Linked DNA regions of Homo sapiens. The protein of the gene in region 2 purifies or fractionates together with the protein of the main gene of each other region. This does not show direct contact. Each region holds a gene or a part of one and is shown on either strand. Other genes may lie near its edges.

Region 1 (8,758 bases), on a different chromosome or scaffold from region 2:
CATACTATCGTACACTCATTGCATCATGTTAAATGGTAAGATCTATTTAAAAACACAACCAAAGTGTTTCAGAGTAGATGACTAAAGTTTACACTGATAATCCCAAACTGTAAAGTGATATTTTGAAAATATATCACCTCTTCACTGACTGTTCTTCAGACTGCAGCACTATTCCAATTTGATAATGTTCTTCTTTACTGTTACTTCTTGTCTTAATCCACCCACCTCGGCCTCCTAAAGTGTTGGGTTTACAGGCATGAGCCACTACACCCAGCCTGTTTGTTTTGGGACAGGGTCTCGCTCTGTTACCCAGGCTGGATGCAGTGGCACAATCACGACTCCTTGCATCCTCACACTCCTGGGCTCAAGTGATCCTCCCAACTCAGCCTAGTGAGTAGCTAGGACTACAGGCAAGTGCCACCACACCTTGCTAAATTTTTTATTTTTTACAGAGACGAGGGTCTCCCTATGTTTCCTGGCTGGTCTTGAACTCTTAGGCTCAAGCAATCCTCCCACCTTGGCCTTCCAAAGTGCTGGGATTACAGGTGTGAGCCAACATGCCCAGCCACATTTCTCAGCTGTGATGTGAGAAGGATTTGGCATCTCTTTCTTCTGAAAGGTAAATCTATCAATAATATGCAGTTGTGTGTAATCATTTTCATTTAACAGTTATGTACTGAGTATGCCAGGTCCCATTCTAGGCATTAGGCATAAAATAATGAAAAAAAGCCCCTGCTCTCATACAGCCTGCATTCTAGTGGGGATAAAAGACAAGAAACAAGTCAGATGGAGCTATGCGTTATAAAGAAAATCAAGCCTATGGGTATAGAGAGTGACAGAGTGACGTGGGGACATGTTAGTTATATAAGGTGAGCAAGGATTTCTATTAAAAGGGGACATATGAACCGAGACACAAGGATATTTGTGGCATGTGTATCCTAAAGAGAATATAACAAACATAAAGGTCCTAAAGAAGGAACACGCTTGGCCTGCTGAAGAAATTGCAAAGAGACCAGTGGTGTGGGAAGAGAATAAGCCTTTGTTTCTCACTGAATGTTCACAATCTTTGCCATGGTTTACTCTTCACAAGATTTTAATTCTTTTTTTTTTTTTTTGAGACGGAATTTTGCTCTTGTTGCCCAGGCTGGAGTGCAATGGTGTGATCTTGGCCCACTGCAACCTCTGCCTCCCGGGTTCAAGTGATTCTTCTGCCTTAGCCTCCCAAGTAGCTGGGATTACAGGCTTGTGCCTGGCTCATTTTGTATTTTTAGTAGAGACGGGGTTTCTCCATGTTGGTCAGGCTAGTCTTGAACTCCCGACCTCAGGTGATCCGCCTGCCTCGGCCTCCCATAGTTCTGGGATTACAAGTGTGAGCCACTGTGCCTGGCCAAGATTTTAATTCTTTAAAAGCCTTTAGATTCGAACAGATTCAGAGATTCTAACTTATCTGAAACGTTGAGATTGTTTCAAGTCTAGGGGTAAGTGGGGGTGTTACTGAATAAGGTAATAATTTGCTGTAATAAGTATTTTGGCCGAATATAGGCTTGTAAACAATCTAAATTATAGATATATTGCCTAGTTTTGAGAAAGAGAAGGTGGTATAGTTGGAAGATCTAAGAGCCAGATCTGGTTTAGAGTCTTGGCTCTATACTTACTTGCTAGGAGCAATACTCAGTTAGAGTTGTAGGTGTTAGTACATATATACCCTTTTACTCTTTTATTCTAATTTTGTAATGTAAAAGTAGCATAGTGGTTATGGGGAAAGAATACTGGATTGGGAGTCAGAAATCCTGAGTTAAACACCTTTGGTGCCACTTATTAAATGTGTGCCCTTAGACAAGGAACTTAAAAGCCTCAATTTCCTTATCTGTAAAAAGAAAAAAGATCTCCTTCATAACATTATAAAGATTAAATGACATAATAATCTATGTAAGTGAAAGCAATTTGTAAAAAACAAAATTCAGATCATATCTATTTTTAAACTTCTCACAGAGCTTTCAAATTCATATTTTACTGAGTTTATAATTTTCACCTAAGTGCTTTCAAAATTTGTTTAATTTTACCTTTTAATTTACCTATTCATTTGCACTTAAGAGTTGCAAAATTTAAAATTTATCCTTCAAAGTCAGTTCCCCATATTAGCTTATGGTAAACTTTATAAAATAACTCCTTAAATTGCATAGCAAAATTCAACAGATAGGAACTCACTCTGAAATCCTCAAAAAGGGTCAGAATGCAGATTTTTCACTTTAACTTTATTAACTGACCATTTTGCAACCAAAAATACGGGCACTCAGAGAAACTGATTTGAAAAAGTAACTAACAACCATTCTGTTTACTTGCACAACTGCTAACAACTTTTTAGCAGGTTTTTGCTGTTTCTATCTTCTGAACCTCTCTTGCTTAGCTCAATCACTGAGTGCTAAGCCTAAGTTTGCAGTCATGTATTTATTATCAAATACTTGATATATGTTCTGAAGGCTGCACTAGACAGAGACATTTATTTTTTAGTATCATATTATTTACCAGCCATTAGTTAGCATCCTTATGTTCCTGGACAGTAATTTAAAATGCAATCCAAAAGAATAGCAGCCAAAACCTTTAAAACATCCTCAATGGTCTTCAAAAATAATTTACAAGACATTTAACGAATGGAACTTACTCCATGCCCTGTGCAGTCTGTCGTGCAATATCTATAAGTTTGATCATCTCAAATTTGGTCTCAATGATATGGAGATGGTGATACAAGCTGGAGCCCTCACACCACTGGGTAACAATAGCCAGTTGTGGCTTTGTGGAATAGCCCATGAAGAGTAGGATATTCACATGTCGTGTTTTCCTGTACAAAGAAATGTGACAGTAAACATTAAATGTCGACAAACTTTAGCAATTCTTACAAAAGAGAACCAAAGTAGTCTGTCGGTAAAATGTTGTCAGAAAAAGCTTTTTTTTTTTTAAAAAAGGCAACAAAAGGATACATTTAGAAGAGACTGGCAATTGCCAAGTCTAACCTCCTACTTTATGCAGAGATATCTTTTTAAATATATCTGACAGGCAACTAGAGGTTGCTTAAATACCTTCAACTATGGGAAGTTCATCACTCAGTTGTAGCTGACTCTCATATCTTTATTTAAGTGGTTCTGGTATTATAAAGTTTCCAAGTGTTGAGACAAAATCATTTTCTTACAACTTTCACCTCTGGCTTGCTTCCCTGGTCTGCTCTCTGGAATAACTTTTTTTTCCGCACTCTGGAATAACTGTGCACTCTCTTGAACATAACAGCCTTCTGTGAACTAAATATCCTCAGTTCTGTTGATTATTTTCCCCCGTTACACCTCTAGAATCTTCCCTATTTAGGTGGTCCTCACTAGGCATATCCTAGTTTGTCAATGTTTCTAAAATTCCAGAGCCCAGGACTAAATACCACCTCTAAATGTATTCTGATAAGCTTAAAACTGGAGAGTATTCTTTTCATAAGTAGAACTATTACTTTATATTATCAGAATACTATACTTCCATTAATTCAGTCTAGGACTAAGTATTCTATCAGCCATACCATATAACATTGCATACTACTTAAAAGAATGTGGTTAAAGACAAAAATATACTCAGACATACTCTGTTTCTACAAATTTATTCATTTTGAGTAAATCTGTAAAGCTAATAGTTGCTACCACTGGGAACCAGGAGCTAATAAAAATAACTTCTTTCTCTGGAAAAGAGTAATTCACACAAGCTCACCTGAGTACTCCTACTTCATTTTTGAAGGCTTGTAACTGCTGAGGTGTAGGTGCTGTCACATTCAACATTTTCACTGCCACATCACCTAAAAGGCAATTGTTACTCCAAGTGTCATTTCAATTTTTAAAATTTAAAAGTATAAAACATTCTTGGGTGTTTTCACTAATTATCATAGCCCTAACTCCATACCATTATTAAATCACAAATAAATTATACTTTAGCTATCTAAACTCCATTTGTTTTCTAAGGCTAAAAATTCAACTAACAATGATATTCCTGTACTAGTATTTCAAAATATCAATCCAAAAAATAGCCAACCTTGTTTGTTCCATGGAAATTTGGTAAAATCAATTAAGTACCCATGGTATTTTCCAAATTATTTGACAATATTAAATTATACTTACTAGGCTTAATATTTATTTACTAACTGAAACTGCAAGTAATGTTGAAACTACAATTACCAGGCCCTATGGAATTTTGCTTAAAAGTAGGAAACTATAAAACTTTTTTATCAGAGTAGTTAACATTTTTTTCAAATTTATGGATTACTTATGATACTTTCAATTAGGAAAATGACTAAAACTGTCACTAAAATTTAAAAAAAACTTCATGTGAGTTAATGGGTGCAGCACACCAGCATGGCACATGTATATATATGTAACTAACCTGCACACTTTGCACATGTACCCTAAAACTTAAAAGTATAATAATAATAAAAAAAGAAAATGATATTTTATTAAAATCATCAAAAAAAAAAAACTTTATGTGAAACAGCTGTAACGTCAACACTGCCAGTAGGTGTTTAAATTGGTACAACTACTTTGTAACATTGTTGGCAGCATTACTAAAACTGGACATATGCATACCCTGTGGTCTCACAATTCTGTCCTAGGTATATATACCCATCAATGGTTACATGTTCACCAAAAGACATACACTAAAAATGTTTACAGCACCAGCATCAATCAAAGCCCCAAACTGGAAACGATCCAATTGCAACAGATGAAAGAAGAAATCATGTTATAGTCACACAATGAAATACTGTAAAGAGAATGAATGACCTCCAACTTCACACAACAATATAGATGAATCTTATAAACAATGTTGAGTGAAAAGGGCCGACACAAAAGAGTACACACTATGCACTTCCTGTTGTAATCACAGTGGTGGTTACCCTTGGGAGAGAGGTGATTGGCTAGAAGAGGACATGGGAGGGTGTTTCTAGAGTGCTAGTAATGTTCTGTTTATTTAATTTTTTTAGAGACAGAGTCTTGCTCTGTCACCTAGGCTGGATGGAGTGCAGTGGTGTGATCATGGCTCACTGCAGCCTTGAACTCCTGGGCTCAAGCCATTCTCCCACCTCAGCCTCCTCAATAGCTGGGAGTACAGGCACATGCCACCATGCCTGGCTAATTTATGTGCACTTTTATACACAGGCTGAGTATCCCTTATCCAAAATGCCTGGGACCAGAAGTGTCTCAAATTTCAAATTTTTTCTGATTTTGGAATATTTTGATTATACTTACCAGTTTAACATCCCTAATCCAAACATATGAAATCCTCCAATAAGCATTTCCTTTGAGCATCATGTCAGCACTCAGAAAGTTTTGGATTTTGGAGCATTTCGGGTTTGGGATTTTGGATTAAAGATACCCAACCTGGCCAGGTGTGCTGCCTCACACCTGTAATCCCAGCACTTTGGAAGGCCAAGGTGGGTGGCTCACCTGAGGTCAGGAGTTTGAGAACAGCCTGGCCAACATGGCAAAACTCGTCTCTACTCAAAATACAAAAATTAGCCAGGGGTGGTGGTACGCGCCTATAATCCTAGCTACTCAGGAGGCTGAGGTAGGAGAACTGCTTGAATCTGGGAGGCAGAGGTTGTAGTGAGTTGAGATTGTGCCACTGCACTCCAGCCTGGGCGACAGAGCGAGACCTTGTCTCAAAACAAAACAAAACAAACAAAAATAAATAAATAAAGATACTCAACCTGTATGTATATTTTAATAAGTTAAATCAACATTGATTTTCCTCAATTATCAAAGTAATACAGTGCTTATTCTACTGTTTGTATCATAAAATACTGTACAGCACTTAAGAAAAGTTTAAAGACATTTTGAAGGTATAAAAAAATTCCCTTAATTATGTCACTCAAAAGTGACATTATATGTTATTAGGCTTTTACATGAATTTAGTGTGAATATTTATGAACACCTGTGAAAAGATAGATTAAGGAGATAAAAACTAAAACACAGTCTTTTTTTTTTTTTTTTTTAAGACAGTCTCGCTGTTATCCAGGTTGGAGTGCAATGGCGGGATCTCGGCTCACTGCAACCTCCACCTCCTAGGTTCAAGCAATTCTCCTGCCTCAGCCTCCTGAGTAGCTGAGATTACAGGCGCCCACCACCAAGCCTGGCTAATTTTTTGTATTTTTAGTAGAGATGAGGTTTCACTATGTTGGCCAAGCTGGTCTCGAACTCCTGACCTTGGGTGATCCACCTGCCTCGGCCTCCCAAAGTGCTGGGATTACAGGCGTGAGCCACTGTGCCTGGCCTAAAATACTGTCATATAAAAAATTATGTTATATATTTCTATGAGCTCCATAATATGGTATCTTACACATACTGCTTTGAAAAATTTCATATACCAAAGACACCTTTCTACATCAATAAATGTACCTCTACCATGCCATTTTAACTCCTATATAATCACATATGATGGTATAAATTTATCCAATTCTCTATTAGTTGGATACATGTTCACTTTCACTTTTCATTGATATTAAACCTTTGATGAAAATACATCCACTACTCTTAATATAATCCAATTTAAAAAGATTTTGTCCAACTAAGAGGCAAATAATGATGTCTATTTTTTGAATTTGCAATTCTTTGATAACTAGTAAGGCTGAACATTTTGTATATGTTTACTGGCCACTTATATTTCTTTGTTAATTTTTTTTTTTTGAGACGGAGTCTCACTGTCACCAGGGTGGAGTGCAGTGGCGTAATCTCAGCTCACTGCAACCTCCGCCTCCTGGGTTCCAGTGATTCTCCTGCCTCAGCCTCCCAAGTAGCTGGGACTACAGGCACGTGCTTCCACACCCAGCTAATTTTTGTATTTTTAGTAGAGATGGGGTTTCACCATGTTGGCCAGTATGGTCTTGATCTCCTGACCTCGTGATCAGCCAGCCTCAGCTTCCCAAAGTGCTGGGATTACAGGCATAAGCCACTGCGCCCAGCCATTAAGTACATTTTTAATATGTTTACTTGTGACTTATAATACAAATAAAATTATCAGCTGAAAGACTCTAAAAGAAAATAAAATCCTTTTGAGGACTAGTTAACCTGGAGGAATTCCCCTTTAAAAATTATTACTGTAATAAAATGGTAGGAGTCCCGACTGCTGTGAACAGTTTTTATTTCCCATAATTTTTGTTAGAAACTTTTGGAGGAGTCCTGAAACTAATCAAAATAGTTTATTGATGCGAACAGTGAATATTTCCTTTGATGATATTTTTTACAAAATAAAAGTTGTTAAACATATCCTATTATGACTTGTCACAATGTCACCACATTACATACTTACCATGCCACTTTCCCTTGTAGACTGTTCCAAATGATCCAGATCCAATTCTTTGTCCCACTGTAATCTGCCCATCAGGAATCTCCCAATCATCACTCGAGTCCCGTCTACCAAGTGTTTTCTTGATAAAAACAGTAAAAAAGTCAAGTCAAGCCAAACAGAAAAAGAAAACCTTATGTTTCACCCTAAGTACATTACCTTATGCCTGAGAGGGATACAGGAAGAGATCCCCTTAAGAAAAATTCTCTGGAAGAATAGTAGTTAAAAGTATGACTCTTAAAATACAAAACTTAAATTTAAGACTGAAGTCAATATTAGGATGGAAAAAATTTATTTTTATTTTTTATTTTATTATACTTTAAGTTCTAGGGTACATGTGCACAACTTGCAGGTTTGTTACTTATGTATACATGTGCCATGTTGGTGTGCTGCACCCATTAACTTGTCATTTACATTAGGTATTTCTCTTAATGCTGTCCCTCTCCCCTCCCCCTACCCCATGACAGGTCCCAGTGTGTGATGTTCCCTGCCCTGTGTCCAAGTGTTCTCACTGTTCAATTCCCACCTATGAGTGAGAACATGTGGTGTTTGGTTTTCTGTCCTTGTGATACTTTGCTCAGAAGGATGGTTAGGATGGAAACAATTTATTAAAAAATATAAATTATTTATGGGGTATGAGCAGGAATGTATATTACTGAAATAAGTAAAATGTTTTTATCATCTGGAAGACTTTAAGGAGCAAGATAAGTGCTGCTATATTTGTGAATAGTTTTGGCTCTAAATCACAAAAAATTTTAAGTTAACCTGTGGTAACTACTGACAATTCATCTAGGTAGTCTTTTTCAATCAGTGCTAAATTTCTTCATGTATCTTATCTAATTCGGTCTTTCCAAAAAAAAAAAAAAAATCAACATATAAAATTACTTTGGTAGGGTAAAAGATCCTCTTATTCAACAATTAGTAGCAATACTACGGCTAAACAGTATTCGTTTTTTATTTTTAAATTTTACTTTAAGTTCTGGGATACATGTGCAGAATGTGCAGGTTTGTTACATACGTATACATGTGCCATGGTGGATTCATTTTGCAGAAGAAAGTTGATTTTTTAAATAGGGAAGAATGTCCTTCAGTAGATATCTGAAATATCTGAATTCTGGACCAGCCTTTTCGTGCCTTCTAATATTAGCTTTCTCTCTTTTTCCTTACTTTAGAACAGAATACTGTTACTCTTCCAAAACTGCCTTTTACTAAATTATATTATAGATGACAGCAAAAAGCAGTGCCGTAGAAATATGCTTTAAGCAAAAAACTATCAGTTCTTAAATTTATTTAATTATGGGAATTCTGTGTCACATATGGACATAATATATCTAAAGGATAATATTACATTTGGCTGTGACTTCTAAGAAGAAAGAATTCAGAGAAAAAAAGATAT
Region 2 (6,631 bases):
ATATCTGTGCTGCCCATTTCACAACTTTATTAGGGAATTAACTAAATGAAAGTATTGGAAATTCCTAAAACAACATGTAAGAATAAGAATATATCATCATCCTCATCACACATGTATAAGTAGATTAGATAAACTAGTGAGTCTTTTCTGCAGCTTGATTGCTACAACCCTCTAATAGTGCCTTTATTTTTCAGTTTATATTTGGTGACAAAATATTCTACCCACACAACTTCTTTGATCAATTTCTTGCTACTGAAGTGTGCTCCCGTGAGATGCTGAATCTCCTTTGCAGCAATGCCTTATTTATAATTTGTGGATTTGACAGTAAGAACTTTAACACGGTTAGTATGCATTTCAATTTCTATATTTTGAGCAACATCTTTGATTACTTGTTTCATTGCCACTTAGAAGTGGTACTTTATGAGAACTAGGAGTAGGTTCAGAACTGCGATATCCTGATAAACATGAGAGAAATCACAAATCATTGCTCCCAATTTAATCACTTCCAGCATCCTTCCATCACCCCAGTTGCCCCTAAACCAAATAAACAACATGAAGAAAAAACACAATTCACTACTCACTTATGACCACCTAAATACTAGGTGTTACATTTAAATTCTGTAAGAGAAAGGACTGAACCATATATTTTAGCAGGCTCCTTTGTGAGAAAAATGTCTAGATATTGAATAAATGTTTTCAATAAATATTTCTAATGCTGACAGTCATTTTGATAAATCTTACAGACTATATTTCTGAGCAACTATTTATGTAAGACTTTGCCCATATTCTTTTTTTGAGATAGAGTCTCGCTGTCACCCAGGCTGGAGTGCAGTGGCGCAATCTCGGCTCATAGCAAGCTCCGCCTCTTGGGTTCACGCCATTCTCCTGCCTCAGCCTCCCGAGTAGCTGGAACTACAGGCGCCCGCCACCACGCCCGGCTAATTTTTTGTATTTTTAGTACAGTCGGGGTTTCATCGCGTTAGCCAGGATGGTCTCAATTTCCTGACCTCATGATCCACACGCCTCAGCTTCCCAAAGTGCTGGGATTACAGGCGTGAGCCACCACGCCCGGCTGACTTTGCCCATATTCTTTATCTACCTTTTCATTCACTTTGTATTGAGTTGGAGTTTCAAAACATATGGACAAAATACACTATCATAGTTAAGAGTATGGATTTAGATCAGTTTAAATTCAAACCCTACATTTGGAACTGACTTAAACGTCTCTGTCTTGATTTCCTCATCCACAAAATGGGTTATTGGGAAGATCAAATGAGCTAGTATGTTTAAAGCATATAGAACATTGTACAAAGCATATAGCACATAGTAATAGCATATAAGGTTTTCTACTACTATTCATAGACAACTATCTCCCCTCCAAATTGTCACTTTAGTTATATACCCTTGAACACCTAAGAAAATTACATCTATTGATAAGAAGGTATAATTCTATGAAGTGTTGTGGTTACTTGTCATTCCATATGTGGAGTTTAACAGAGAGTAGCCTGTCCTCATCACACGAACAAAAGGCAGAACAAATTACTGTATTCCATTAGTGAGAGTCTTATAAGAAAAATAATAGTAAAATAAGACAAAGGAAACAAAGGAAATTAGAGATTTCATCTTCTGCGTAATAATTTGCAGAAGACCATCTTCAGTCTCCAATGAAGATGGCCAATTTGTTTCACTATGGCCACAGTCCGCTATATTAATGGCATTAAGAGTCACTATGAAGTGGCCTTCTGCAACTGGAGAAAGGAACTTCAGTTTGTTGCTTGGGGTTCTGCAAAGCAAGAGGCCTGTGTGTGAATATTTAACCTACAGCACTCTAGCACTGGGTAGAGAAGCATAAAAGCTGAGAATTTAGACTCAGAGACCCAAATTAAAGTATCTGTCTCCATTCTGTGTGGATCTTGGACATTTCTTTAAACTTCTTTGTGCCCCAATTTTCATGTTGATAAAATGGAACTAATAAGTTCTCCTCATTAGGCAGCTACAAATTAAATGGGTTAACACATGCAATTGCACTTTGCAAATTCTGAAGTGACATACAAATGTGTTGTTCATATCCTTCCAGTAAATGCTACCTTTAAACACTTGACCTGAATCAGAAAACATAAATCTTTACTGTTTTTAAGAAACTGAGTATGTGTCTTAGTATGTATATAATATGTGTGTCTGTTGATTTCTAGAGTCGCTTGGATGTGTATCTATCACATAATCCAGCAGGAACTTCTGTTCAAAACATGTTCCATTGGACCCAGGTATTCTTTTCCAAATGCTGTTAAAATGTATTTTGTGAGTCTCAACCCTTTTCACTTTACCTAAACACATTCTTAAAATATCCTGCTGAGTACACCTGGAAGGTAATTTTTCTGGCACTGACTACCATACAAAAATAACTATGAATTTATTTCAAAGAAGAAAATGCTTTTTATTTTATTTTATTATTATTATACTTTAAGTTTTAAGGTACATGTGTACAACGTGCAGGTTTGTTACATATGTATACATGTGCCATGTTGGTGTGCTGCACCCACTAACTCGTCATTTAGCATTAGGTATATCTCCTAATGCTATCCCTCCCCCCAGCAAATGCTTTTTATGACTTGGTATGCAAGAAAAATTATTTTGAGTGAAGCTGCATTTAAACTTACATAAATACCTTGTCCTAGATTATTAATAATCTTTTGGAATGAGAAAAATGTTTCTTAATAATTGTTTAAATTGAAAATAAACTGCTTGGAAATGTTTGAATTTTATTTTTCACAATATAATAATTTTTATTTGTTTGCTTTTAATTTCTCTATGTTAGGCTGTTAAGTCTGGGAAATTCCAAGCTTATGACTGGGGAAGCCCAGTTCAGAATAGGATGCACTATGATCAGGTAAGCTTCTTAAAGATGGAATTATTCACATTTTGAACAACAATACTAACTATTTAAATGTTAAAGAAGAAATTATGTTAACTGCGCATCTGTTTTCCAAAGGAATGTTGATGTTCTGTCTCTCATTCTCCCACATGACTATGCATTCCTGCTCTGGTGGCTACGCTCATTTAAAGAGGTTTACAAAGCTGCCCTCAAAGTACTACACCCCTGTGTGTGAGAGACTTCCCAGGACTTACCACTACCCATTGCCATTACACAGACCTGTCCCATATCCCAGATCCCCAGCACACTGTCCTCTCCTTTCTGAAGTACTAATACCTGATATAATAAGCTAATAATTCTAACTGTTCATGGAATTTCTGGTCTTCTTAAACAATACCCTTTCCTTTGTTGACAGCCAGAGGAGTGATTTCAATGGGATATATTCCCAAATAGAAGAAAAAGATGCCGTGCTTGCAGGTCAAGGCTGGAAATATTTTACAATAGGCAGAGGCCTTTGGCATAGGCAGACATATTAAGCAGTCCTCACACTTGCTGTAATAAGAATCCAGACTTTGGAGCTTATCTTATCTGCAGTCAATATGAGTTTGGGCAGTCATTTCTTCATCTCTCCACCCAGGCTCAGGAAGTTGTTGACAGGATTTAGTGCTATAATATCTATAAGCTCTTAGCTCAGGGTAAGCTCTCGGGTTATCACTGACTATTTTTGAACAAGGGAAGCACCCTATAGTATTTTGTAACCTTCTCTTCTTCCTTTTCACCACATCCAATTTTTCCATCCAAGTAGTAGCTGAACAACTCTACTAATTTTCATTTGTTTCCATGACTTAAAATTTAGAAGGAATTTATATGTTTTAACAACAATGTCTTATGTGTAGAGAAGGTGCCCCCCAACCTTGATTTTGCATTTTTGATATCTTTAAAGTTTTCAGAATAGCATGAGATCAAACTTTTGTTGAAAACATTTTTTCCTCCACCATCACTTTCTCAAATCTCCAAAACACACAGGCTTGCTTTGAGTCTCTCTTTCTACTGGACTCTAATACTCATAATCAGAGGACTTCATCTTAGAGGAACAAGAAACCCAGTCCCCAAGTCCACCCTTCTTCCAACTAAACCAATAATATACCAGGTTGGTCTTTAACTAACTGAAGCAATGACACTAATTTAAGAGCCAGGGCCAGCATCTAGAAAACTCTTTGAATAATAGGATGTAAGTAAAATAAGCTGGGTTTATAATTATGAATATTCTCCACACACTCCCTTTTCTCTAATATTTAGGAAATATAATAGAAATCATGAAAATATTAGGGAAAATTACATATCATAAAATATTTTGCTATGGCAAGTTGGCTATTACACAAAATGTGAGAATACAGAAACTTTTAGTATATTGGATTACTATTCTTGAAACTATGATCTAAAAAAATCTAACAAAATTCTCTCTGGGCAGCAAGAAAATTTGAGATAATTCTCTTATTCCTTTTTCTGCTTTGTAAACCTCTTTAAAATCTATGTGTGAATTGTGATTTTCGAGAAACAGGACATGGGGATGATAATACCCTTTCTCAGAATTTGAAGCAACATTTTGTAAATACTCAGGTAAGTATTCAACAATTACAGCTCCATAACTGAAACAACTGACCTATCCCCTGACCATAACTGGGAAGTCAATACAAAGCCAAAATAAATGACTCAGGACATTTTGAGATCATATTTTAGAGTGTTTGGGTAGAAACAACCTATTAACAATTAGAATCTAATCAAATCCATTTCCCTTAGCTTGAGTTGCAATCTATGTTCTTAATTTGTAAGACTTACTGTCCAAAGCCTTGCTATTCAGAGCATGGTTTGGAGCCAATGGCATCAGCATCACCTATGAATGCAGAATCTCAGGCTGTTCCCCAGATCTACTGAAACAGAATTTTTACTTCAACAAGATCTTCAGGTAATTCACAGGCCCATTAGAATTTGACAAGCACTTATCTAAAACATATTGCATTCACTTTGCTCTGTGGATAAAGGTGGTTTTCTCTGTGCAATCATTGCTAGAATTCACTTATAAAACCGCCAGTTAATGTTATACACTCTACTTGAATAGTAAGTACTGGGTTTAAAGTGTGGTTACCTAAACTCTGGTTCTTTCTCTTGTGTTTTCTAGTCCCAACCTCCCTACTACAATGTGACAGCCATGAATGTACCAATTGCAGTGTGGAACGGTGGCAAGGACCTGTTGGCTGACCCCCAAGATGTTGGCCTTTTGCTTCCAAAACTCCCCAATCTTATTTACCACAAGGAGATTCCTTTTTACAATCACTTGGACTTTATCTGGGCAATGGATGCCCCTCAAGAAGTTTACAATGACATTGTTTCTATGATATCAGAAGATAAAAAGTAGTTCTGGATTTAAAGAATTATCCGTTTGTTTTTCCAAAATACTTTATTCTCTCATACATAGTATTTTCATAATGTTTGACATGCAGTGCTTCTTTCTGTAATTTTGACTTTAGAAATATATTGGCATCAACAAACTTCCATTTGTCATTTTGAATTTTTTTAATTTAAAGAAATTTGATTTTTCACCTGGAAATTTATCTAGAAATACTTGAGAGAATATATTTCTGGGGAGGTGAAACTTCTCATTTTCCCATTCAGTTTCTCTTCTGAACTCACTTATATATGAGCTGTGAGCCATAAGTGTTTCTAAAGGACAGTGTTGGCTTCATATTCGCTCTGCTTATGTACACTTGATACTGAGTATATTGCTTTCTATTGTTGATGAAGCTAAGTCTTTCCATCTGTGTAGTGGGGCCTATCACTTGCTATTTTGCATATTTAACCCCATGGAAAGGCCAATTGGGATATAAACTGAATCAACTCACTTTCACTTCCCAGGGAGTGGAGAGCAAGGGTAGTTTGGGAAGCAGCAGATGAAGTCAACCCTGAGTCAGGAATTTGGGAAGAAAAGGGTATGCTCTATTATTATTATTATTATTATTATTATTATTATTATTATTATTGTTCTGCCCTCATGTTTTTGGGTCTTGACCACCAAATAGGCACCAACTAACCAAACTATTTTTGAAATCTCTGCCACAGTGCTGGAAACCACAGGATCCAGAAACATCCCCATTGATATATCAATTAGGATGTACAACTGCCATCAGTAACAACAAAAAAAAAGGCTCACCCAAACTTTCAAAATTTCTAAACACACACAGCCTTACCTTGGAAATTTTATTAACCCCACAAATTTGTGACCTCATATTTTATGCAATTAAGTTATTCAGATCACACCTATTATACTATGTTACGGTTTGATGTATAAAATATAAATGAGATAAGGAATATCTTGTACCCAGCATAGTGTATAAAACATAGTGAGTATTCACAAAAACCTGTTAACAATGTTTATTATATTGTCACATCCCTCAACCTTTGTTAGGAAGCCCCAAACTTAATTTGTTTTAAGCAAGAAATTGCTAAAAGAAGATAACTTGGGAGACTTTATTTCAATATTTCAGTGAACTTTGTTGTTAGACTTTACTAAACTGACATGAACATGTCGGTGACTAGTTACAAATGTTCATGGTGGTGGAAGCAGTTGAGGACTCAGATGTTTTATCAACTCTACTTCCTCGAGAAAAGAACAATCATTAGATTCTTGCAGTCTCCTATGCTATTCCAGCTAACTGCCTTTCTTTTAGTCGGTACTCAGCAGATACAGGAAGTTTTGGTTTG
Region 3 (8,641 bases), on a different chromosome or scaffold from region 2:
ACCAAGATGAGTACTGGGCGTGGTGGCTCATGCCTGTAATCCCAGCACTTTGGGAGGCTGAGGCAGGCCGGTCACTTGAGGTCAGGAGTTCCAGACCTGGCAAACATGGTGAAACCCTGTCTCTACTAAAAATAAAAAAATCAGCCAGATGTGGTGGCTCACGCCTGTAATCCCAGCACTTTGGGAGGCCAAGGCGGGTGGATCACCAGGTCAGGAGTTCGAGACCAGCCTGGCCAACATAGTGAAACCCAGTTTCTACTAAAAAATACAAAAATTAGCTGGGCATGGTGGCATGCGCCTGTAGTCCCAGCTACTCGGGAGGCTAAGGCAGGAGAATCGCTTGAACCAGGGAGGTGGAGGTTGTGGTGAGCCGAGATCACGCTACTGCACTCCAGCCTGGGCAACAGTGCGAGACTCCATCCCCCAAAAAATAAATAAATAAAATAAATTTAAAAATAAATAGAAAAATCAAAAATTAGCCAGGCATGGTGGTGCATGCCTGTAGTCCCAGCTACTTGGGATGCTGAGGCACAAGAAGAATCACTTGAATCTGGGAGATGGAGGTTGCAGTAAGCCGAGATTGTGCCACTGCATTCCAGCCTGGGCGAGACAGAGCAAGACTCCAGAGGGGGAAAAAGAGGAAGAGCAGCTGGGAGGCTATCACAGTAATATAGGCAAGAAATGGTGGTGACTTTGACTAAAAGGCTAGGAGTGGAGGTAGAAAAAACATCAATTCCAGATGCATTTTAAAGATGGGAGAACTGATTGGATGTGAAGGACAGGGAAGAATCAGGGATGGACCCTAGGTTTCTGGCCTGCACAATTAGATGTATGGAGGTTCCATTTACTGACATGGATGGTACAAATTACTGAGATTTAGTCCTCATATACTATGTGCTCATTTCAATTACCAAATTCAGTGAATTCTTATCACATTTTATCTCTCTTCATCTGACAATGCTGAAATACCAAACTCACCTGGTTTTTCTCTTACTCACAGAGACTCTTTGTCAGGTTTCATATACCCCAAAACTCCGTCTTTGGCTCTCTGCTATGTTCTTCAGTGCATTTTCCCTGGATGCCCTCATCCAAACAATCCAAGCTTTAACTATTAGCCACATAACTCTCTAAATCTCCATTTCCAACCAGAACTTTCTCCTCACCTCCAGAACTGTCTATCCAATTGTTTTCTGCCCATCTCCATTTGGATGTCTTACCCGCATCTCAAACTCAACATATTCAAAAGTATCTCCATCATCTTCTTCCCCCAAGACTCCTATTTCCCCATCTGTGAAAAGGCCAAAAATATGCCCAGCTTCCCAAGCCCAAAACCTATGATCATTTTATCCACCTCCTCTTTCAAGCCTGCATCAATGTTTCCAAGCTCTATCAAACGTACTTTCTAAGTGGCGCATCAACATGTGTCCTCTCTTCATAGCCCAATGCTTGAATTCAGATCTTCATCATCCTCCCCGGGATTATTACAATAGTCCTCTGCCTTCTCTGGCTTCAGCCTCACCCCACTCTAACCCATCCTTCACATCTCAATAGACAGAGAAATCCTCATTGGATTAAGTGTGGCAGACAAGGCCCTTTGTAAGCTGGTGCCCTTGGCAGGCTCTCCTGCCTCAACTCCCACCATTCCCCTTATATACACTCCAACCTCCCACTATACTGAACTACCAACAGGTTCATTCATAACTCTGTATGTACTTCTGCCCCTCCCCCATGCCTACCCAGTTTAAACTCCCTTCCTCCAGTAGCCTGAACTACAGTCTGAGATAATGACCCTCCTTCAAGCTCCCACAGTACATCTTTACCAATGTGCTTCTGACCCTACACAGTGGCACACACCTGTAGCCCCAGCTGCTTGCGAGGAAAAGGCAGAGGAATCACTGGAGCCCAGGAGTTTCAGTTCCAGAGCAGCCTGGGCAACACAGTGAGACCTAACCTCCCACCTTTTAAGTGTTAAGCACTTAAAAGGTGCTCAGTGAATGTTTGCTGAGTAACTGTCTTGATAAAACTTTAGAAGCTATCCTGTAAAAGATAAACTCTTATGTGCAGTATCCATGACCAGAAAAGAGGTGATTTGGCAAGAATTTTAGATTCAATAATTTTCTAAGTTGAACCAATAACATCAGCTGCTGATTTTTACATATCAACATTCATCTTCATTACTGAAGAGTTACGTCCAAGTTGTATGGGGCTATTACTCTAGTGATCTTTTCACTACTATGTAGTTTTGCACTCCTTCTACGTTTAATACCCTGATTTTAATTAAGATCACCCTAACTGCTTTGTCCTCCATAGCAATGTCTGACCTCTCATGCATAACAATTCTGTCTGAAGCATATTTCTGATAAACCTTAATTTTAGGCTATTTTCTACTTGTTTGATTAAACACAAATACCACCACCAACAAACACACTTTTAACCTTTTTTTCTAAGACAAAATACAGAATGGATTGTGTCTTACACAAAGTGTGTCATCATCTGTCAACCCCTGGAGGGTAGGGAGACTTTTACATTTATGCTTTACAGCCCCTGGAATCACTGTTTAAGTGGAACAGTTGGTGATCCAACAGAACTTCACCTAGTTTCCCTGATCCAAGGATTATATTAAGAACTTTTCCATGAAGAAAGAAATTACTGAGTAAACTCTGGTATTCAGATACTGTGATGCTAAATCATAACTGACATTTTGAAAACAAAGGGAATGAAAAAAATCTACGTGGTTTCTTAGCAGCTGGCCCTCTTTATAACTATTATTTAACTAAATTCGGAGACAGCAACAAGTACTTTGCTTTGAACAACAACACAGAAAAGTCCTGTGGCAGATACCACTTCAGATGTCCATAAAACAAGTCATCCAATTCCCATAAATTGAGCCCGAGGTTTACCTTAAGCTTGAGTCACAATATTTGGTAAGAAAAAGGAGCTTTTTTTTTCCTTTAGGAAAATTATGCTTTTTAATGCTCTATGTCTTGTCAAATTATGGTGGCTACGTCTGGAATTATGATGGATTTGACCAAATTCTTTTAAGCCAGGCCATCTCACTGGTATTCCAAGCTCTTTGCATTCTAACCTAGAAGTAACAATATTTTTTTATTGGCGTTTTGCAGACCACGGAAATGAGACTCTTTTATTACGGAGACTTAAAACTGAATGAGAGCATGGGAAAGGGAACTTACAACAAAACCCTGGCTTAACAGGAAACAAATCAACAAAGGCCCTACAAATGAAAAACCTGCAACTTTCCGCCACCTCCCAAAGGTGAAGAACGCCAGAACCCTAGTTCCTGAGTCAGAATCCGGGAGGGCCTAGACGATCCAGAGTCACCACGAGGAGAGGGCAGGGTGCGCCGCGAGGGCTCACCGCAGCCGCCCGCCGGGTCCGCTCCCCTGGACCGCCCCCCGGGAAGGAGCAAGGTAAAGCACTCTCCCCTCCTCCTCCGCACTCCAGGATCCAGGAAAGAGAAGAAAGAGGCTCTGCGCCTTCCCGGCCAGTCGCGGAGGCCCGCGTTCCCCATGGGCTGGGTCCCCTCGGCCCCAGAGAGCGCAGGCCGCGCCCCCTCCCCACCTCGGCTCTCAGTGCGCGCGCCTGGCCTGCGACCGCCGCGATGGGCGTGTGTCGGGCCCGGGGGCCCCACTCCCCGGCCCCAGCCCTGGTCCTGGCATCACTTACAGAGCCCAAGCGCCGCCGCCAGCACCGACCACAGCCAGCGCCGGCTGTCTGGGGCTGCAATCACCGCCCCGGCTCCGGCGGACGCTGCCATCGTCCAGCCACTGCAGTCGCCGCCGCCGCCGCCGCGTCCCTGAGCCCGGGTCCCCGCTGAGGTTGGCTCGGCTTGGGGAAGAGGCTTCTGATCTCTCCGCCACCCGCGCCGGGTGGCACCTCCACGCCGCGCTCCCCACTCCGGTCCCAGCCGCGGCTCTCCAGCTCTGCACCGAAGCCTCAGCCCCACTCCGGCCCTCGCTGTCCGCTCATTGGCCTGCCCGCACCCTTTTAAGGACGCGATTGGAGAGTCAGGCTGTCCATCATCCGTCCGCCGGGAAGGCCCCGCCTCCTCGGTCCCACCCAGGCGCCTCGGCCCCGCGCGGAGGCCGGGTCTGCAGCGGTCCCAGGCCGAGCCGAGCCTTCCGCCTGCCTGCGTGGCTGTCCGCCTGCGGGCCCCACCAGCCAGCGTCTCCTCTGCCTTTCTCAGGGTCCAGTCCCGTGGTCCTCTTCATTGTCTCTCCTCGCCACAGGTCTTTGCTGGGTACTAACCTCGCCTCCGTTTCAGCTCTTCTTGTTCTCTGCCGGCCTCACCTAACGAAAAAGAAGCAATTCATTTACCTTAAAAAGAAAGAAAAGACAGAAAGAAAAATAATGAGGCGTTCAATTGATGGGGGAGAGACTTCTGATTCAGTCGTCCAGGTGGAACACGTTCCCCGTGCCGTGTCCCCAAGGCCTGTCCTTTGCGTGGACTAGATAATGTATGTGTTGCAATTTGCGAAATCTACTAGTTTAAAAAGAAGTCTCCATCTTGCCCTAACCTCCTCTTAGGAACCTCCCTCCTGGCTTCAGAAGGATGGGAATCTGGAACTCTTTCCTACTACCTGAAAAACAAATGAAAATGCTTTTTGATTGTTTTGCTTTCGCATATCTGTGTTCCTGTCTGTGTCCGTGAAAAATAGAAAGCAGAAGTTCCCAACACTGATTCTGAAGTGCCCTGCAGAAGTTCCCGACACTGATTGCTGGCCCTGCTCAACTTGGTTGCCTTGGCCCAGAACAGTCTGCCACCTACGGGTTGTCCAATCAATAGGGGAAATATTTGGAAGGATCCTTATGAAAATGGCTTACAAAAGGGAAAAATGGGGGACAGGGGCACAAGAAAGATGAGTGTGAAGGAGGAAAAGGGAAGATTCAGGTGGGAGGCTGATACGATGAGGAAGGGAAGCAAGCTTTAGACAATTAGGACAAGAGCGGGGGAAGAGTATGGTGAGAACCCAAAATGTAACCTCTCACTTCAGGGTTTTTGTCTAAGGTCAGTCTTAACAATGCCATTCCTGATATCTGTGCTGTTTCAGCTAACATTGCAGTACAGCGAAATCATAAGAACATTAGTGAGAAAAAAACTTAAAAAAAAAAAATACCAGAACCACTTTGCCCTATTTCTGTCAGCAGATCCTTTTGAAGTTGTATCTCAAATGCCATAGGTTGGAAAAGATACCAATGCATTAATTGAACCATGGATGTAGAACACCTGGGCTTTACTCTCAAGAAGCACATCGTCTACTAGTGTACACAAACAAGTACTCAATTACATTTGTAAAAATGAGGGCCGGGTGCGGTGGCTCACACTTGTAATCCCAGCACTTCGGGAGGCCGAGGCGGGCAGATCACGAGGTCAGGAGTTTGAGACCAGCCTGGCCAGCGTAGTGAAACCCCATCTCTACTAAAAGATACAAAAAAATTAGCCGGGCATGGGTGGCGCGTGACTGTACCCAGCTACTCGGGTGGCTGAGGCAGGAGAATCGCTTGAACTGAGAGAAGAGAGACAGAACCTCTCATATAGTTTTATACTCAGAAAAGGAAAGAGAAGCGAAATTAAAGGCAGGTAACCCGGCGCCTAAGAACCAGACCCGAAACCAGGCCTGGGCCTGCCTGACCTAAGCCCGGTAGTTAAAGATCGACCCCTGACCTAACCGGTTATGTTATCTATGGATTCCAGACATTATATGGAAAGGCATTGTAAAAATCCCTGTCCTGTTCTGTTTCGTTCTGATTACCGGTGCATGCAGCCCCCATTCACAGTACCCTCTGCTTGCTCAATTGATCATGACCCTCTCACGCGGACCCCCTTAGAGTTGTGAGCCCTTAAAAGGGACAGGAATTGCTCACTCGGGGAGCTAGGCTCTTGAGACAGGAGGCTTGCCGATACTTCCGGCCGAATAAACCCCTTCCTTCTTTAACTCCGTGTCTGAGGAGTTTTGTCTGCGGCTCATCCTGCTACAGAACCTGGGAGGCAGAGGTTGCAGTGAGACGAGATCACGCGCCATTGCACTCCAGCCTGGGCGACAGGGCGAGACTCCGTCTCAAAAAAAGGAAGAGTGAATAAAGAAGAAACCCAAGGCCAGCAGGGACAGTGACTCTCAGCAGTGTTTAAAGCTTCTCTGCTGATTGTGATGTACCTCAGCCACATATACCTCGCTCTCCTAAAATCCACTGGCCCAAGAAGCATCTAGAAAGATTCACCAAGGATAAAACATTTAAGGTGAACTTTAAAAGATGAATAATTCACCAGAGAGAAAACAGGAAAAGCAAACTCAGAGAACGGAGAAAACAGGAAAAGCACATTCAGAGAAAAGAAATCACCTACCAAGTGTGAGAAACATTAGGTGAATCCTTTGTGGTTTGCAACTTGAGGGGAGTGAGGGAAAGAGGGGAAGAGAGAATGCCAGGAAAGGAGGCTGCGGTCATATTTTGAAGAGCCTTGAGTTGTGTTTTTTCTGGAGGCAGTGGAGAGTGGTGAAAGGGGTGTAAGAAGTTCGGATCTGTGTTTTAAAAAGGTAACCACTGCAGCAGGGCAAGAATGAAGAGAGCAGGAAATAAGGTATTGATAGTGGGGATGAGAAGACAGGATTTGAGAGACATTTCACGAAAAGAATTACAGGACTGGGTATAAATTGGATGAGAAGTATAATCAAGAGAAAAAGAGTCCCAATTTCTAGCCTGTCTGTCTTTGTCTTCAAGATCTGTTGCCAGAGGAAAATTGGAATGTGGGTGGTGTCCCAGGAACCCTGAGAATTTGACTCCTCGCAGATAACAAATCAGATAGATTCAAAGAGGAATCCCAGGCCACCTTGAGAAAGATTCGCCTGAAGCCAAATCAGTTTCACAAAGAATGTCTTAATCCAGAAGCATTGCTGCTAGAAATTTTTGAAAATTGGAAAATTAGAGTTCTAGTGTCTCCTTCCCCTTGGCACAGAGACACCAAATTGGGGGAACGAGGGTAAAAGGGTCCTTAGGGAGGTGTTAATTCTTACAGGAGAAGGCTGTGCTGTCAGACTTCTAAATTCACTGTAGCTGGGATAAAATTTTCCTCAAGATACACTGTTTTCCTGGGCCCTGCAACCATCTGTGTACTACATCTGCTTCCCAAGGACCTAATTCTAGGGAAGCATGTGCCTGGACAGATAGCGCAGGCATTCCTCCTACCAAATAGGGATATTTCCCACTGTCAATGAAGCAATCAATATTCTGAGTTTTGTTATTGTCAGTCTTTCTGCATCATTGTTATGACAGTCAAATGAGATACTCAAGTATTTGGCCTGCCGAGTAAAAGACAAGTTCCTTTTTAATGATTAGATAGAAGAAGTTGGGGGGAAAAATCTAAAATGATAATAGCTATAGTAAATTCAAAAGGGAAAAGAGAGAGAGCAGGGAGACTTCTTGAGACTGAGGCTTTCAGATATCTGAAGTGGTTATATTATTTTCTCTAACCAGTTATATTCTACAGCTTCCTCATTTTAAGGAGAAAAGCAGTATAAACTTCTTAGGTGTCCAGGGCATATTTTTTTCCAGTTAGATTTTGATGAATACACTATCTGGCAATCTAGAACTTATTAACATTGTACAAGGTATTCTTATCCTCCCTCCTTTCCTGGAGCCCTAAGAAGAACTGAAGACTCAAGTTAGGGCAGTTTTAAATAAAACAAGGGTAAAGACAGCGCTAGATTTTCTATAATTTTCTGTTGTCAAACCATAGGAAGAAAGTGGACAGTTCGGAGTCGGTCACATAGTACTTGTTGTTAAATGTTTGTTGAAGAATGAGTAGGCTGGGCGCCGTGGCTCACGCCTGTAATCCCAGCACTTTGGGAGGCCAAGGCCGGCGGATCACAAGGTCGGGAGTTCGAGAACAGCCTGGCTAACATGGCGAAACCCCCATCTCTACTAAAAATACATTTGGTGCCCACCGTTTGTAATCCAGCTACTTGGGAGGCTGAGGCGGGAAAATTGCTTGAACCCGGGAGGCGGAGGTTGCAGTGAGCTGAGATTGCGCCACTGCACTCCAGCCTGGGTGACAGAGCAAGACTTCCGTCTCGGAAAAAAATAAAAAAGAATGAGCAATGAATGAATGAATGAATAAACCGATGAATGTATGACATATGAAATAAAATTAATGAATAGGTCTATTTAAGATAGTCACTCTGTCTACTTGTTTCCTATCTGGTTGGTTATTTGCTAGAATGACAATTCACAATTACTGTTTGTCAATGTGTTTGTCAACGTGTTAGGGAAGCAGCAGCCTAGGAAAGCTAGAATAATGCCATTTTAAGTTCAGCTCCATTTTAGGACTAACAAGGCACATTCCTTGCCTGCCACGACCCATAGTCATGGGATGTTTATAATTAAGGAAACAGCCTGAAGATAACTAGGACTGACTCCTACAACAGCAAGAAGTCCAAATGTCCTAATATCTACAACAATATATGCCTTTAAGATAATCACAGTTATGCTTTTACGTATTCACACACTAAAATGTCAATAATTGTCTTCTTTAAATCAACAGAGTAACAAAATTTGTCATGTTGTCTGCTCACCCGTATGTAGGCACAGCTTAGCCTAGCTTTTACATAGGTAAGATCACTATATAAGA
Region 4 (7,000 bases), on a different chromosome or scaffold from region 2:
TTTTTGGGAAGGTAAGTTGGCACCTAGCAAAATGTCCTTTAAATATTTCCTTCACAAATAGTCACATGGCCGGGTGCGGTGGCTCACACCTGTAATCCCAGCACTTTGGGAGCCTGAGGCAGGCGGATGACTTGAGGTCAGGAGTTTGAGACCAGCCTGGCCAACATGGTGAAACTCCATCTCTACTAAAAATACAAAAATCAGCCGGACCTGGTGGTATGCGCCTATAATCCCAGCTACTCGGGATGCTGAGGCAGGAGAATCGCCTGAACCTGGGAGGTGGAGGTTGCAGTGAGCCGAGATCGTGCCACTGCACTCCAGCCTGGGTGACAGAGTGAGACTCCGTCTCAAAAAAAAAAAAAAAAAAAAGATATACTAAAAATTCTGCTATAAATATAGCCTGTCACTTTTTCCATTAGCAATATGTTATGTTTTCCCTTAATGAGAAATATTATTCAATAAGACATTTAATGGCTGCAGGTTATTCCTCCATACATAATTTATGTAACTAAATAATTTTTCTTTCCAGAAATTTAGATTTTTTTTCTGAATTTCTTTTTTTTTTTAGCTGGAACCATAGGCGCCTGCCACCACTCCTGGCTAAGTTTTGATTTTTAGTAGAGACAGCGTTTTGCCATGTTGGCCAGGATGGTCTCAAACTCCTGACCTCAAGTGATCTGCCCACCTCGGCCTCCCAAAGTGCTGGGATTACAGATGTGAGCCACTGCGCCTGGCCTGAACTTTTTATACTAGGAATATAGTTGGACATTATATATCTAGCCTTATTCATGTCTCTGAATGTTTTTCAGGAGTGTACGTATGTTTTAATGAACTTGAAGACAATGATTCTTTGTAATTAAATATCGTCTAAGGAGGTGAATCTCCTTATAGCTTTAGGGAAATGTCCTGGCATAATCCTCTGGAGAATCACAAGACATTCTCCCCTCAAAGCTGCTCTCCTTGGCCGGGAGCAGTGGCTCACGCCTGCAATCCCAGTACTTTGTGAGGCCGAGGCGGGCAGATCATGAGGTCAGGAGATCGAAACCATCCTGGTTAACACGGTGAAACCCCGTCTCTACTAAAATACAAAAAATTAGCTGGTGGTGGTATGCGCCTATAGTCCCAGCTACTCGGGAGGCTGAGGCAGGGGAATTGCTTGGACCTGGGCGGCGGGGGTTGCACTGAGCCGAGATTGTGCCACTGCACTCCAGCCTGGCGACAGTGCAGGACTCCGTCTCAAAAAAAAAAAAAAAATGCTGCCCTCCCCTGGAAGAACACTTACCTTTCATTTTCCAGCGATTTCAAAATCTCGGAGCTTTTCTTTTGTCTGTGGAGAAAATCATAAAAGGTCCTGGCAGTCACCAGCAGGCCTGTTTCCTGTCTCACTGCGTTAGCTGTGCAGAGGGGCTTAGGAAATGGGCTGGGGGCACCTTGGCTCCACCACCTTGAAGCTCTGGGTTCTTAGCCAGTTACTGAAACCACTCAAGTCCCAGGTTTCCTCACCTATGAAATTAGAAGAATAAAAAAACCCAGCCAGACACAGTGGCTCACATCTGTAATCCCAGCACTTTGGGAGGCTGAAGTGGATAGATCACTTGAGGTCAGGAGTTCGAGACCAGCCTGGTCAACATGGAGAAACCTTATCTCTACAAAAATTAGCCAGGCGTGGTGGCCCAAGCCTGTAGTCCCAGCTCCTTGGGAGGCTGAGGCAAGAGAATTGCTTGAACCTGGGAGAAGGAGGTTGCAGTGAGCCGAGAGCACACCACTGCACTCCAGCCTCAGTGACACAGCGAGACTCTGTCTCAAACAAAACAAAATGAAAACAACCCAGCTTCTTGGTGCATTTGTAAAGACTTAATGAAGAAATAGATGTAACAAGCTTGGCACATAAGAAGCATCCAACAAATGACTGGTTTCCTGAACTCATGCAGGTACTTTTGAAACTGACAGGTGAGGGAGGAACGAGTGATTCAGGGTTAGAAAAAAGAGGCCTGGAAGTGGCAGGGCATATGGCTGGAGCCTGTTTCTGGAATCATCCTGCAATGGGCCCCCTCACTAGACTTCTCAGGCTTTTCTGGCGCCATGTCTCCCCAGCCCCATCAAGATCTGCTCTTACTAGCTCGTACCTTGCACAGGGTTTGTTAAGGCAAATCTCACTACAGGTGAACAGCTGACCTCAGTGCAACGGGTTACGCAGAACCCAAAATACTGGAGCAGGATGTGATCCCAACTATCTTGTCAAACCCACTCACTTTATAGATGGGAAGCTTGGGGCCCAGTGGGGAAACATTTGCCCGAGGCCACAGGTCCAATCTGGTAGCAGTCTCATGCTAAGAAACCAGACTTTGTAATGACTGGGTCAGATTCTTTTCTCTCTACGCTGGTGCCAGTTGAAGCACCCAGACTGGATCCTGACAAGGGAAGCCCGGGGCAGGGGCAGAGGCAGTGAGGGAGAAACACACTCCTCCCGGCTCCTCAGGGGACTGCACGGGGAAGGACTCTGGGGCTGGGGCCGAGGAGCAGAGCCCAACCTCTGATTGTCCTGCAGCAGCTTCTGGATCCGGCTGGAAATGTTCTGTTCCGTCTGCTTCAGCTGCTCCTGCAGCCGCTGCCGCTCTGCGTTGAGGTGGCGCTGGTGCTCACTCAGGCCCTGCTCCAGCCGGGACTGCTCCTGCAGCCGGAGGTAGGGGTCCTGAGCCCCTGGGACCCCCTCAGACGCCGTGAGGGGTACTGACTGGGGTTAGGAGGCTGGCTTTCCCACCCTGCCTTGCCAATCCTTTTTGTGTGACCTCCGGCCAGCTCCTCCCAGTAGGCTACAGTGTCCATCTGCACACGGGGAGGCTGGGCTGGGTGATCTGTAAGGGCCCTCCCAGGTGCTGGGGGACAGAAGGAAGTGACAGCTTCATCCCACTGCCTTTCCACATCCGAGGGACCTTGGCCCAAGCCAGGAGGCCACTGGCTGGGGGATGCAGCCAGGCTGGACCCTAGCAGGCGGCTCACAAACCTCCTTGACCGTCTGAAGGATCTCATCCTTCTGGCTGCTGCTCTGCTGAAGGAGCTGGGTGTGCTCCCGCTGCCCCAGTTCCAGGCGCCGTTCAAACTCGAGTTTCTCCAGCATCTTCTGTTCCTGCAAGACACAGATCCTGGTGACTGTCAGCACAGGCCCTGGGGGAGTTAGGACACAGAAGTCGGGAGAATCCACCCCTCAACACTGACAGGGCAGGCTCCAGGTCTTCATGCTGAGCAACCCCCACTCCCCTCCAGGGCCCAACTGTAAGAAAACAAGCTGTTCACAGGAAGAGGCTAGTGGTCTAGAGCCCGGTGCTGGGCTCAACCCCTCTGAGCCTCAGTCTCTGCACCTGTCCCATGGATGCTCTACCACCCACCTGAGGCATGTGAGGATGCAGCAGACTGCGTGTAAGAGGAAGGCATTACTGTGACCTCTAATTCTGAGCTGGGAAGAAGTCATTTTCTCAAATATTTTATGAGTTGAGTTGAGATCTTTAATGAGAAAAGAGTGACAGAAGGGTAAAGGCATTTTCTTACCTTCCTCTTCTCATAGTCTGAGAACCTGTTCTGGGAGGAAAAAAAGACAGTGGTCAAGAGAGGGTGGCAGCAGTGGTTCTCCCTGGCATGGGCACCAGGAACCCCCGGGTGGCCTGATGTTATACAAACTCTGGCCCACCCCAGACCACTGCCTCAGAATGGTGGGGTCGGGGGATGAGGGGATCCGTATTGATCAAGGGCACCAGGTGGTTCCAGTGGACACCTGATGAGAACCCCTGGGCTGTCACTGTGTGCATGGCACTGTAGGAGGGGCTCTTCAAGACAGTTCTGGGATGCAGCCCTGAGCAGGGATGGTGGTCTGAAGAGCAGAGCAGGAAATGGGATATCTGATGCCCATGGATGTCTGCGTAACACACCTACAGCACCCGGTTCCAGTCCACCAAAATACTCACAGTGCACAAAGGTGTGGGTACAACTTCCTGCAGAATTATTCAAAAGAGCAAAAACACTGGAAATAACTCATACATCTATCAACATCTGTCCGTAAGTCATGGTGCATCCATACAGTGGACTATTACACAACCGCCAATGGGGCGAATGTGTGAGATCCCTCACCTGTGTGTAGCATGATTCTACTTTTGCAAAAACATCATCAAGAAAACTCAACTCTGAGCATATGTGTGAAGGTATTGAGTCAAAGGTCAAGAAGGACAGTCATTAATCAGTTAATGATGACTACCTCCAGGCAACGGGAGTGCAGGGTGGAAGGGTTGACATTCACTTGGTTTGTAATTGTCTGTATTGTTTAAATTTATAACAAGGAGCAGGTATTAAACATCAATAATGTAATGTAATTATTGGTGTTTAATTAATTAATTTATTATTGATGTAATTAAACAGCAATACACATATACACAAGAGTTAGGTTCTTCTTTTTTTTTTTTTTTTTTGAGACGGAGTTTTGCTCTTGTTGCCCAGGCTGGAGTGCAATAATGGCACAATCTTGGCTCACTGCAACCTCCACCTCCTGGGTTCAAGCAATTCTCCTGCCTCAGCCTCCTGAGTAGCTGGGATTACAGGCACCCACCACCACACCCGGCTGATTTTCTGTATTTTTAATAGAGACAGGGTTTCACCATATTGGCCAAGCTGGTCTCGAACTCCTGACCTCAGGTGATCCATTTGCCTCGGCCTCCCAAAGTGCTGGGATTATAGGCATGAGCCACTGCGCCCGGCCCACACAAGTTTTTTCTTTGTGATGGAGTCTCACTCTTGCCCACGCTGGAGTGCAGTGGCACAATCTCAGCTCACTGCAGCCGCGACCTCCTGGGCTCTAGTGATCCTCCCACCTCAGCCTCCTAAGTTGCTGAGACTGCAGGCACGCACCACCATGCCTGGCTAATTTTTTGTATTTTTGGTAGAGACAAGGTCTTGCTATGTTACCCAGGATGGTCTCAAACTCCTGAGCTCAAGCATCCACCCGACTCGGCCTCCCAAAGTGCTGGGATTATAGGCGTGAGCCACTGCGCCTGGCACACAGGTATTTTTTGAATGGTCCTTCTATTTAGTTATCCTGTTTTGAGAACAGGATCAGTCTCTGAATTATAAAAGCAGCAACCTATAAATAGGATTTTGCCTATACTAATGGTAGGAATATAATTTTAAAATTAATCTTCAATTATACAGATAACATCTCAATATATTCTCCTTGTAAAAGTTTGAAACATGGTATAAAAAACTAAAGCATCTACTGACCACTCCAGCCTAACCCTGGTTCCCCTCCCACCCCACACCTCCTGTCAGGTGTAACTGTCATTATCAGGCCCAAGGCATGCATCTGTACATATATAATTTGTGCCTTTGGGAAAGAAATATATTTGTATTTGTGTGCATATATAAACATTTTTTTAATCAAGTATAATCTATTTACTCTAATTCACCCAATGTTAGTGAACAATTCTATGAATCTTTATATATGCATAGAGTTCTGTAACCTCTAAACACAATTAAGATAGAAAACAATTCTGGCTGGGCGCGGTGGCTCATGCCTGTAATCCCAGCACTTTGGGAGGCTGAGACAAGTGGATCACTTGAGTTCAGGAGTTCGAGACCAGACTGGCCAGCATGGTGAAACCCCGTCTCTACTAACAAAATGCAAAACTTAGCCAGGCGTGGTGGCAGGTGCCTGTAATCCCAGCTACTCGGGAGGCTAAGGCAGGAGAATTGCTTGAACCTGAGAGGCAGAGGTTGCAGTGAGCTGAGATCATGCCACTGCACTCCAGCCTAGTGTGACAGAGTGAGACTCTGTCTCAAAAAGAAAAAAGAAAACAATTCCATCACCCTCGAAAATTCGCTCATGCCACTTCATCATCAAATCCTCTTCCCACTCCAGCCACTGGCAACTACCTGTCTGTTTCCTTTTTTTGTTTTGAGTTTTCTTTTTCTTTCTTTTTTGAGATAGGGTCTAGTTCTGTTACTCAGGATGGGGTGCAGTGGTGTAATCTTAGCTCACTGCAAACTCCAACCTCCTGGGCTTAAGCCATCCTCCCACCTTAGCCTCCCTCGTAGCTGGGACCACAGGCACGTGCCACTATGCCTGGCTAATTTTTTTGTATTTTTTGTAGAGACAGGGTCTCGCCACATTGCCCAGGCTGGTGTTGATTGAGTTTTCTTTTTAAACATAAGAATGGAAATAGACTAGCCCATCCTGTTCTGCAATCTGCCCTTTTCACTAATCCATGTGTCCCAGCGAGCCGAGGCTCAAATGCTCCATCTCATGGTGTGCACATGACCCAGGGGCAGTGCCTTCTCACTGACAAACATTTGGGGGGCATCCAATACTACAAATAAGGCTGCAATAAACACTCCTGCAAATGTCTCCTCATGCAAGCATTTATCTTGGGTATACATTGAGAAGCGGAACTTCTGGATCACGGGCTGTGCCCATGAAAATTTTTGACATCTGGCGGGTGTGGTGGCTCACACCTGTAATCCCAGCACTTTGGGAGGCCGAGGTGGGCAGATCACTTGAGGTCAGGAGTTCGTGACCAGCCTGGCCAACATGGTGAAACCCCGTCTCTACTAAAAATACAAAATTAGCCGGGCATGGTGGCGCATCCCTGTAATCCCAGCTACTCGGGAGGCTGAGGCAGGAGAATCACTTGAACCCGGGAGATGGAGGTTGCAGTGAGCCAAGATTGCACCACTGCACTCCAGCCTGGGCAACAGAGTGAGACTCCATCTCAAAAAAAAATAAAAAAATAATAAAATCTTTTTTGACACCTACTGTCAAATTATCCTCCAAAGTTGTGATACCAATTTTCACTCCCAAGAGCAGTTTATGAGGACACCTGTTTTCCCATACTCTGGCCAACAGAAATTGTCATGTCAAAATGTGTGCCAATCTTGAGGAAGGAAATGGTATTTCAATGTTGTTTTAACTTAACATGCCTCTCCTCTGATTACCAGCAAAGTTGGCATTTTTAAATGTTTG

Evidence for each region.
Region 1: the proteins of LIPF (region 2) and BRAF purify together in Homo sapiens (affinity purification with mass spectrometry; 3 studies listed by BioGRID and IntAct, with this or other methods). This does not show direct contact.
Region 3: the proteins of LIPF (region 2) and MPZL1 purify together in Homo sapiens (affinity purification with mass spectrometry; 3 studies listed by BioGRID and IntAct, with this or other methods). This does not show direct contact.
Region 4: the proteins of LIPF (region 2) and LRSAM1 purify together in Homo sapiens (affinity purification with mass spectrometry; 3 studies listed by BioGRID and IntAct, with this or other methods). This does not show direct contact.

Annotation. Positions count from the first base shown.
Region 1 is NC_000007.14:140,774,250-140,783,007, forward strand, and holds part of BRAF (serine/threonine-protein kinase B-raf), read right to left. Parts: intron 7,445-8,758; coding exon 7,327-7,444; intron 3,827-7,326; coding exon 3,742-3,826; intron 2,840-3,741; coding exon 2,663-2,839; intron 1-2,662. UniProt on the Homo sapiens protein: Protein kinase involved in the transduction of mitogenic signals from the cell membrane to the nucleus. Phosphorylates MAP2K1, and thereby activates the MAP kinase signal transduction pathway. Phosphorylates PFKFB2.
Region 2 is NC_000010.11:88,673,394-88,680,024, forward strand, and holds the end of LIPF (gastric triacylglycerol lipase isoform 2 precursor), read left to right. Parts: intron 1-194; coding exon 195-341; intron 342-2,192; coding exon 2,193-2,264; intron 2,265-2,815; coding exon 2,816-2,887; intron 2,888-5,051; coding exon 5,052-5,288; 3' UTR 5,289-5,421; downstream 5,422-6,631. UniProt on the Homo sapiens protein: Catalyzes the hydrolysis of triacylglycerols to yield free fatty acids, diacylglycerol, monoacylglycerol, and glycerol. Shows a preferential hydrolysis at the sn-3 position of triacylglycerol.
Region 3 is NC_000001.11:167,717,286-167,725,926, reverse strand, and holds the start of MPZL1 (myelin protein zero-like protein 1 isoform a precursor), read right to left. Parts: upstream 3,946-8,641; 5' UTR 3,776-3,945; coding exon 3,685-3,775; intron 1-3,684. UniProt on the Homo sapiens protein: Cell surface receptor, which is involved in signal transduction processes. Recruits PTPN11/SHP-2 to the cell membrane and is a putative substrate of PTPN11/SHP-2.
Region 4 is NC_000009.12:127,475,510-127,482,509, reverse strand, and holds part of LRSAM1 (E3 ubiquitin-protein ligase LRSAM1), read right to left. Parts: intron 3,577-7,000; coding exon 3,547-3,576; intron 3,128-3,546; coding exon 3,005-3,127; intron 2,672-3,004; coding exon 2,532-2,671; intron 1,328-2,531; coding exon 1,283-1,327; intron 1-1,282.